Linked DNA regions of Homo sapiens: region 2 is linked to region 1. Evidence: fine-mapped expression QTL. A gene starts in region 1. The other region holds a variant in brackets. All regions are shown on one strand. Distances are between the middles of the regions.

Evidence for each region.
Region 2: its variant is fine-mapped to the expression of C1GALT1 in thyroid (GTEx, PIP 0.91).

Annotation. Positions count from the first base shown.
Region 1 is chr7:7,179,826-7,185,211 of GRCh38, reverse strand. C1GALT1 (core 1 synthase, glycoprotein-N-acetylgalactosamine 3-beta-galactosyltransferase 1) reads right to left here and starts at 2,668. Exons shown (of 4, transcript NM_020156.5): 1 at 2,392-2,668. RefSeq lists silencers at 1,879-2,098, 2,319-2,928.
Region 2 is chr7:7,252,076-7,257,461 of GRCh38, reverse strand. LINC03016 (long intergenic non-protein coding RNA 3016) reads right to left here and starts at 2,308. Exons shown (of 4, transcript NR_108073.1): 1 at 2,284-2,308. The variant T/G (reference allele first, on the strand shown) is at 2,291.

The sequences.
Region 1 (5,386 bases):
GCAAGGCAGCACATACTACAGGTGCTAGATAATTTATTTAGACTTTCCTTTCAGTTTCCCCCACCTTCTTATGTGCTTCCCTAAATCACAAACACCAGTTTCTTTATATATTTTTTTTCTCCCTCTTCCTATTCTCACATATTACAGATTTTGGCATATATATTCCCCTTGGACATTTGAATTAGCTGCAAAATAATTTAAGTACACATTGGAGTTCCTCTCTAACCAGATTTTAAGATAAAAGGCTAACTTCTCATTTTATGGAACAAGTCTCCTTCCCGCTCCCCACCTTTCTTCTTTTAAAAGAATGACTTAATCCCACTGAATTTGAAGTAAAAAGATTTTTGTCATACCTTTCTTTCAGCCTTGCTATAGTTTGTACATCAGCGTCTTTAATCAAATCTTAAGAAATCTTCTAAAAGAAAAGATGGTTGTATTGGGAAGCTTAAACTTTTAAGCCTATCTGAATTTAATTTCAGCATCAAGCTTTCCATTTTCTACTTAAGGTTTATTTATAGCTGCACTGTCACAAAAATTCCAATCAATGATTTTACCACACAAAGACTCTAAATTACCATGGCTTATAATGTTAAACTGCATAATGCAATTTTAATTTTAGCACAAATCAATACACAAATAGTAGCATGTGCCTAGTGACATACTTTTTCATATTTCTATTAGGTAAACAAGAACTCATTATGTGTACCCTGAAATAAATTTGTGATACAATTTTAAGAATAACTGGATATTGAATTTACTCAACGTAGTCTAGTCTTAAAAAGCATAATTATGAAAAACTTTAAATAGGAAACACAAAATATTTCTAAAATGCTTAATCCTAAGTAGGAAGATACAAAAAAATACACATTCCAGGCAAATTTGAGAGGCATTTAGTAGCTCTCCACTAATACTGAAAAATTATTCTCTTTATGAAGAATTTTAAATGAGTCATACTTTCCTTACTAAGTCATTGTTTCACTTACCATAAGGTGAAGAGTTAACTGTTTGCTAACTTGAAACTTTATATTCACTTAAACTGTACATCTATATATAAAGACTGGTAGAAAGTATAGTGTACTATATACAATATTTAGAACATACAGCATCATGGGCATTAAGCTCAACTGCCATTTACCTAAGAGGGTGAAAAGCTGTCATCTAAATACCTTCTAAAAACTCGGATTCCAACTTCCCAAACTCACACCAGAATGAAGCAACTTGAAATTATGCGCACTTTTTCCTGGCAGAGCTATGTTCTATGCCCAACTTTTAGTAAGTTAACATATTTCTCTCCCTTACACATCGGCCAATTATTCATTGATTCATTATGGTTCTAAATTTATAACTTTTAAATTCATAATGAAATCAATCCATGGTTAGCACAATAGTTTTCTATCTTAAAAAAGCGTTAAAAGGAAATACAGTAGTATGTACAATGGATATAGAGAACTAGGTTAGAAATCTTGAGAATTTTTCCAGGATGTGTGGGTTTTTTGTTGCTGATACTGTTGTTTGCTTTAAATGCGGGGTGGTGGGGGGTGGGGAGACGGTAAGGACCAGGAAAGAATAAATCCACAGCGCTAAATTATGGTCATCTTTTAAGAGTGTACGACTTACCCAAATTCAAAGCAAATGGACAACTTGTCAACACCTACTAATTCCATCACAATTTGTTGGGGAAAAATGGGGTGCAGAAGCAAAAAAAAAAAATTTAATGCCTTTCTTCCTCCTCCATGCCCCGAATGCCCCAACACACACGTATCTGCTTCACTCTGCGGCAGGGAAACTTAAAGAAATAAATCAGCTACAGACAAACCTGATGATCCAAGCTAGACCCAAGCAAGCTCCAGGCACCTCTGGAAGGAGCCCGCTCGCTGGGCGCTCAGGCGGCGCGGCAGCCGAGTGGCTCCCCGGCGAAGGTGCCCAACACCTGGGCGCCCAGTCCGGCGGGACCCACAGGTCTGCGGCGGGGCGGGGAGGGCCCGGGAGGAGGGACTGGGAGGGCCCGGCGGGGCAGGACCGCTAAGTGGTCCGGTCCGGGCGCACTGCGCGCCCCGCCGCGCCGCCAGGCAGCGCGCGAGCAGAAGAGGGGCGCGAGCGGGCACAAGGGAAGGACCCACGACGAAGAGGAGGGTACATGTCCACAAAATTGAGGCCGGGTACGCAGCCGAACGCTGTGGCAGATCGCTAAGGCTCCGGGAGCGGGAAGTCCTCGCGCCTTCCTCAGGAGCCCGGACGACCCCAGCCCGGCTTTGACCCCGAGACACCTGTTCCGCCGCGCCCGGGGTTTGGTTCCATCCTCCACGCTTCCCCACCAACCCGGAGAGGGGGGAGGGCGAGGGGAGACGAGACCTTGGACCCGTAGCCTGAGGGCGCCTCCGCCGGCCATACCTGACATCAGCTGCGGCTCCCTCTCGCCCCTCCTGGGGGGCGGAGAGGGGGACGACTTGGGACTGGTGACCTTTGCTTCTCTGGGCAGCCGCAGAAGTGGCTCGTGGCCGCTAGCCGAGGCCGCCCGCTGCCGCCCAGATTATTCCCCGGCAGCGGCAGCACAGCGGCGGCGGCCAAGGCGGGCCCAGCGCGCGCTCCCGCCCGCTCGCTCCGCCCCTCCCCGCAGCGCGTCCAGGCCGTGGCCCGCCTATGGCGCAGCCGCCACCCGAAGTCTCCTGGCGCTGACGTCTCCGCCGCCGCACCAGCCCCAGGGAAGGGCGGAGCGGGAGGGGCGGTGGGCGGGGATACGGCGACGTGAGGAAGCGGGGATTGGCTGCCGGGTGCACGCTCCGCCCTAATGCGAAGGGGTCTGGGAAGTCGGATCTTGCACGAGCAGTAGATTTTGTTGTATCCCCCTTGCGGCTTGTGTCTGCTACTCTCCGCATTTCTGATCCTGCTGTAAGGTTATGCACTAGCTTCAAGACCTTGAGCGGGACGAAAGCAGGGTAACAATAGGGAGCGAGAAAGGGGATGCTTGAAGGACCTTTGTCTGAGGTACAGGCTCTAACCCTGCAGGACTCTTGTGGCCTGTAGCCTGCTCTTAACCCGTTCATTTGTTTTTCTGTTCTCTCCCCGTGCTCTCTTTACTCAGTATCTCTCTGGGCTTAATAAAAGGAAGTAATAAGATGAAGTATGCATACGGGTGCTGGGTCATCATGTGAGAACCAGGAAGAGCTGAGAACCGAGATAATGATACCAGAAAGCTTTCTATAGGCACATTTCGTCTTTGGTTCTGTCAGCACTTCGGTTCTGTGGGGCAATGGCCGGAAGAGCTTCTTAGGGGCGTAACAAAACCTATCTCCCCTTTCGCTGGGCTCTGAATAAGGAAGTTGTCTTTGGAATAGGGGGAGGAGGCTGCCACCTGTTGAGGCAACCCCACAATAGTCATGAGGTGAGGGTAAGGTTTAGTCTTTACTGGCGTTAACCATTATCTACAAGACCACGTTCCAGAATAGGAAAGCTACCCTGCTTCCTTTAAATGCCCTATCCAAGCGGTTCTTTAGTACTCTACAGCATGGTTGTTAAAGAGTATGGGCTCTGAAATCAGACTGCCCGGGCTGGCATCTTGGTCCCTCCACCTATTGGCAAGTTACTTAGAATGCCTGAGACAAATAATAATATACATTAGTTATTGTTATTTTTCCTTTAATTTGCTTAGGTTCAGCTGTAGTGTAGTTTCTCAGGACATTGCATCAATATATCCAAAAGAATTGTGAAACATAAAGCACATGTAGTGATTCTAATACAGATGTCTCATTTTTCAGATGACAAAACTAAGGCCAGAAAGATAAACTGATAGGTCCATGTTAGAAGAGAAGTGCAGCTATCCTGATGTCCAGGTTATTGCTCTTTCCTTGGCTCATGGGTCCAGACTTCTCTGCCTTACATGATTACGTCCATTCTCTACTCCTCCCCAACTTGTATACAGTTGTTGCTCAGCCTCCTCCCCCTCCACCTTTCCGCAATATCCTTCCACCTTTCCGCAATATCCTTCCACCTTTCCGCAACATCCTTCCACCTTTCCGCAATGTCTTGCCATCCATTGTGAAACATGGAAGGAGAACTCTTTCAGGGGTCAGTGTTCCAAATAGAAACCAAAACTCACAACTCCTTATCTCGTTTTAATTTTATTAAAAGTTATAATTAATAAAGAATAACACTTTTTTCCATTGAGCAAAGATTAGAACCCTTTCCTAAAATAAGGTCAGCCACAGCCTTATCCTGGAAAATTACTTGCTAGAAACAATACTGGACCAAATCAGCCCTGCCCCCACCCTGCCTTTCTTTGAAAATAGCTTTTTTTTTTTTTTGAAGAGATATGGTCTTTCTATGTTGCCCAGGCTGGAATGCAGTGGCTATTCACAGGTGTGATCTTGGCACACAACAGCCTCGAATAACTGGGCTGAAGGCTGAAGCAATCTTCCCGCCTTAGCCTCCCCAGTAGTTGGGATTACAGGCACAGGCTGTGGCACCCAGCTAATAACTATTGTTTTATAAAAACAATACATGCTTATGCAAACAAATTTAAAAAATTTAAACAAAAATGCAAAGAAGTTAAAATCTGTCCAAATACCATAATATAGAGATAACCATTTCTTAAATTTTGTGTTACATTCTTCTAGGCATCTCTCTAAGAATAAAAGCACATATAGACATATAAATACAATATTTCATAAATTGGATCGTATTATCTGCACAGTGAACAACAGTCATGAATAACATCATTTTTAAAAGTTGCATACTGTCTGTTAAATGGATATACCATCATTTATCCAACCAGTATTCTATTGATTGACATTTATGTTTCCAAGTTTTTACTACCATAAAAAAAGTCTCTGATGAACATTCTTATCCATAGGCTTTTGCACAATTGTGCAATTATCTCCTTGAACACATTCCTAGAAGTGACATTAATGTCAGCCAATTCTTCGACATTTTCAATTAGAGAATAAAAATTGTGGTTACTTTGAAAAATATACTTTATATGTGGGACTCAAAACTGACCAGATTCTCCCATTTGAAACATACTTGAAACACACATAAACCTCAGTATTGTTGTTTCTCTTGTGTCTAGTGTTTAATAATGCATGTCAAAACTCGTTGGAGTAGGTCGGTAGACATTACTAGTTGTCTAAACCAAAATCCTTTCTTCTTTACTAGTAGAACTCTGATTTCTTCAGGGTGACAATGTGGCCAGTTAAAAATATTCATGCCCCTAGACTTTCATAAGTCATGGCTGGCCATGTGACCATCAATTAAATAAAAGTGAATTTCTGTAGAGGAGACTCAAGGAAAGCTTTATGGAAGAAATATCGCTTTAGCCATTTGATATGCACCCATCCCTTTTTTTTTTTTTTTTTTGAACCTGAAACAGGGACATGATACTGGAGGTAGA
Region 2 (5,386 bases), 72 kb before region 1:
GTGCTGATAACTGAAGGTTTCTAGTGGGGTAGCTGAACTACCTTTGGTGACCTGGAAACAGGTAGCAAAGAGGGCAGAGCAGTAGCCTGGTAAGGGTGGAGAGGATTCCACTGGAGCTTGGCCGCTCTCATAAAGTACTATCTGGACCCTTTCTTTCATTATTCTGGAACGGTCAGGAAAGTCTGGTCTCTACTGTGGGCAACAAAGAGGAAAATAAGTCTTTTCCCCAGGGTCAAACAAGATGACAGAAGTCACCAGCAGAAGATGGTAGTGCCCACTGAAGCAGCAAGTTAACTGGAGTCACTGTCCCTAGGAGGCAGCCCAGGAATGGGCAAGAGGGCAACCCATTTCTGGGTACACATTACACTGTACCCTGGGAACCGCTGAGGATCACGAGGGGCATATTTTAAGGGTGGCTATTTCTGCCAGTAATGCTGGAAAGCATTCATGGCATAATGCCATGATATGTAGCAGAATCCACCACAGTGTCTGTACGAAATGTTTAAGTAGGTAATTCATTCTGTCAGTTATTAAGTGTTATGAATCTGAAATCATTAAAACAATGTACTGCACAAGAAATAGGCAGATAAGCAGACCAGAATACAGTTTATACACAAACCGATAATGAAATATCATGGGGTAATGGTGATTTAAAATAAATGTTGAAAGAAAGGATCGTCAAATAAAGTGTATTACAACAAACGGGTAGCCATTTTCCTACCTCACTCCATATAAGAAAATAAATTCTGGAGGGATCAAAAATATAAACACAAAAAATGAAACTATGAAAGTAAGAGGAAAACATAAGCATATTATAAATAAACCTTGGTGTGAGCAAGACACACAATTCAATAGCCCTAAGAAAAGATTAATTGGTTTGTGTGGGGAAAAAACAAGTACGAAATAATCATAACAGTTCTAATACATATAAATAAACCAATATTCAGAGAGTTTATAAAAATTTTTAAAAACCCTAGTAATTCAATATTAAAAACTGGCGAAGATGAAATGCAAATTACCAATGTATAAAAAAAACTCAAACCTTAAGTACAAATCAACAATTATCAGATATTAATGCAGTGATAAAACTAGTAAGTTCAATAATCAAAAACTTTGGTAAAAGGGGCAGGAAAATATACTCGCAAATGTTGAGTAGTAGTATAAGGTAGTACAGTACAGTTTAAGAAGGCAATTTGGCAGTATCTATGAATATTTAAATGCATACATTCTTTATCTCAGCAATTACTTGCTAGGAACTTATCCTATGGCTGTACCCACACAATCATTTCAAGGATGTTCAGTGCAGCAATAATTATAATAAAAGTATCCAACTCAATTATCAATAGAGGAATGGCTTAAAAATTGTGGCACATCCATACAGAGATCTAGTTAACTATTAAAAAGAATTATCTCTAAGTTATTAAACAGTAAGCAGAAAAGGCAAGGAGCAGAATGATGTGTTTAGTTTGGAAATGAGTACAGTTCTGTTATTTTCTGTTTATGGCTGGACAAAGGGACTGCTGGGTGGGGCTGTAGCAGATTATAGCTTTTCATTTTATATTCATTCTCTTTTACCAAGCACATACATTACCTTTGTATAAAAACTTAAAAATATTTTTAACAGGAAAGACATTATCCTCAAACCATGCAGTAATGCCCAACTTGAATATATTTATTCAAGATCTAAGGAAGGAAATTTCAGGGGTACTGGAGTTATTGAAAAATAAACCTAAAAACATGCCAATGAAAGAAAATGGCTGTGGGTCTCAGAAAAAAATGGTACACTGACTGCACCTGGGAAAAAACTGGAACTCTCGAAGAATTGAAGTTAACTGGGCTTTGGCAAATTTGTGAATATATCGACTCTTTCACATGAAGTTGTACCTGAGCCTTATTCTTTAAATCCAGTTCAAATGCCACAATTTCTTTGAAACTTCTCAGATCCCTAAACACTTAATATACAGTCCTCTTATAGTTCTTTGTAAATACCTCTATCATAGTCCTGAGGAGGCTATTTGTTCACTGGCATGTCAGCCCCCAACCCAAATGTGAGATCCTTCAGGCAAGCCTTAACCACAGGTTTCGCCCTCCTTTCTCTTCTATAGCTGACAAACCATGAGCCTGGTGAAAGTTTGTTGAATGGGTGATTTAATGACTGGAGGAAAAAAAAGAGCTGTTGCTTTTTTTGGATTTTAGGATAGAAAACTTGTAACTTGACATGTAAATTAATTATTAACTAACTCGACACAGTTTTCTCCTTACCAGTGTTAGGCACGACCCTACCTTTGTT[T/G]TGTCATCAGAGATCACTTGTTGCTTCAGTAACCAAGAGCACTGAGCTACACCAAGTGACAGTGCTTTGGAATGTCTAATGGTCACTGTAGAGAAAAGGAACCTGAGCTCTCCTCCCTAATAGCAAATACACACAATCTTCTGCCCACACTTGAGGTTTTGTTCTTTTTCTGGACTGTATTCTCCAACGTAAATGCGAGGTTTTTTGCCTGATGGTGTATGATACGTGGAGTTCAAATCAAGATTTTCTCAAGCAGAAAACCTGTTTAGGAGTCCCTCCATATCTATGAGAAAAGCATTTTGTTTAGAGGTCTCCATAAAAATGAAACAGAAGAAAGTAGGGGGCATATGGAGAACTTTTCTTCATAGTGAAAGGATGCTCACCATTTACTTCCTTTTAATTGATATATAATGTACATATTTATGGGGGAGAGAGTAATATTTTGATACATACAATGTATAGTAATCGTATAGTAACCTTTTTAAACTTTTTTGTTGTGGAGATGGAGTCTTGTTGCCCAGGGTGGACTTGAACTCCTGAGCTTCAGCCTTCTGGGTAGCTAGGACAACAGGCATGCAGCACTACACATGGCTTTGTTATTTAAAAAAAAAAATCCTATTATGTCCCAGGCACAATTGGAAACAAGACAGATTTGATCTCTGATAACAGTGCCTGGCAACTATTAGGATCGTTCCTAGAATCTATTTGCAAATGGTGGGAAAAGGCAGGGACCAAATATGTGAGTTCTATCTAGCAGTACAATGGGTCAAAGAAAAACAGAAAGAATGAATAAGATCTAGTATTTGATAGCACAATAGGGTGACTATAGTCAATAATTTAATTGTGTATTTAAAAATAACTAAAAGAGTATAATTGGATTGTTTGTAACACAAAGGATAAATATTTGAGGGGATGGATACTCCATTTTCTATGATGTGATTATTACTTGTTGCATGGCTGTATCAAAGTGTCTCATGAACCCTATAAATACGTACACCTACTATGTACCCACAAAAAATTTTGTTAAAGTACATAGCTCAGGTTGTTCAGGGAAGATAAGAAATTGCATTTAGTACAAAGACCACTAACCTGGGAGTCAGGAAAATTGAGTTCTGTTGCCACTTCTGGCATTATTTGTGTCATTTTTCTAAACTTTAACATCTCTAGATCTGTTTCTGAATCTTTCAAACGAGGCGTTAGAACATCTTTAAGCTCTAGAAATCAGTAGTCCTATATTTTTATGTGGGAAAGGGCTCAGTGTCTTCTATTTCCATGAATAAGAGAATAAGACTTAAGCCAGAACAGATCTAAGAAAGATATGAAAATAATCTGACACAAGGATTTGAGAATAAATAGTAACTTCCGAGTACTCTTCACCCTTGGAGTAGAAGGAGAGAAGGATGCTAAGACGGGTCCACATGAGGCTGCTGGTCCTTTGTATGGGTCAACTATTTACCACTCTTGAAGATGGATACCTCCTTCATCTACCCTCATTATGAACTAGTTCAGCAGTCTTTATACCCTTGATTGAAGAAAGTAATTTCTTATGGCAAGATAAAAGAATCCAAATCAGCTTTGAGATCTTTCCAGCTCATGTGTGTACCTGCTTACCTCTACTGCTGCTTAAGAATGTCTGTGGACATTCTTCACCACTGGTTGTAAAAACCCTAGGGAGCCAGGGCCAACAGCTTTTTTTTCCCACTTTACTTCTCTAAACTGTGACAGTATAAACATGATTTTTTAAAAGTTCAAAAAGGAAAACAGTGAATTATTGAATTTCTTTCCAATCCTAGTACCCTTCCCCAAAGGTACTGCCAACAGTTTTTGTATATTCATACATTTATAAGTTAAATCATATTTTTCCTTATTTGACATCATATCTATGTTTGGTCTTAATTCTGTCATCTATTGTAAATTCTCCCTTTAGCTCTCTTATATGGCCTGTGTTATCTTTAATTTTGTGTTTTCATTTTAATAGTTATCAGGCTTACAGTTTTGGTGATTACCTTCATAACTATTCAGAATATTACATCCCTATTTCTTGATATATTATCAATTTTACAAAATTTCTATTCTGAAAAGTAAAACCAATTAGGGCATGTATATATTACCTCGTCTTTGATATTCTATTTTCTAACTTGTTAATCATCTTTTCTATATCAAGATTTATAACATTTCAATATGCTTCCATAGCCTTATTTAAATAATTCTATAGCTACATAGTTAAATAATTAACCACCACCAGTCCTGTTCTCAATGTTTGTCCATTTATCTCTTTAGATGGGCTTCATCATCTAGATTTTTCAAGAAGTGTCCACCCTCACTCTTTCAATTTACCCTTCCATTTGAAATCACTTGGCTTCTTCCTCCCCCAAGAATCTGGTAGAGTTTGCTTCACTCTGCTTTAGCACTGAATGTTGCTACAGAGAAGCCTAAGTCCAGTCCGTTCTTCCTCTCTCCATCTCCCCCTCCCAAAGAAATCACTCAATTTTGTTGCTGCTAAGATGACATTCCCCTCTCCCTGCCCCCAGGACAATTTGCAGATTTTGGCCACATCAAGAGCAACTGTATTTTTTTGAAATTATAATGTTAAAATTAGCATTTGTTACACGATCTCACTTTAATAAAACCATTTCTATCTATTTAGCTTCCTATCCAATTTATATTTATGCATTAATTGGAATTACTTTGGGGGGTGGTGGGGTTTGGGGTCCTTTAAAAATTTTCATCTTTGAAATGGTCATCTGCAATGAATGTTTAAGTTTTTTTTAAAATAATGGAGCTTATCACTTTTTCAATGGAAAGATGACTTATCTAGTAAAAGCTGGTAGTAAATACACAAGATACAATGATGCGTACTTTTTTGTACGTTTTGAAGAAAAACTAACACAAAAGAAAAATGTTAAATGTTTAAAAAGAGGAAACAATTTCTCAAACACCTCCTCTTGATTCTGACAACTTGGGTGGGTTAATGGGCTTATGTCATAGAAATGGCATTTTCCCCCCTCCATATCAGGACACTTCATAAACTTTAACAAGAAGAATAAGCCAGAAGTTTTCTTAGCAATATGAATTAAGAGTATAAAAGCCATTGAA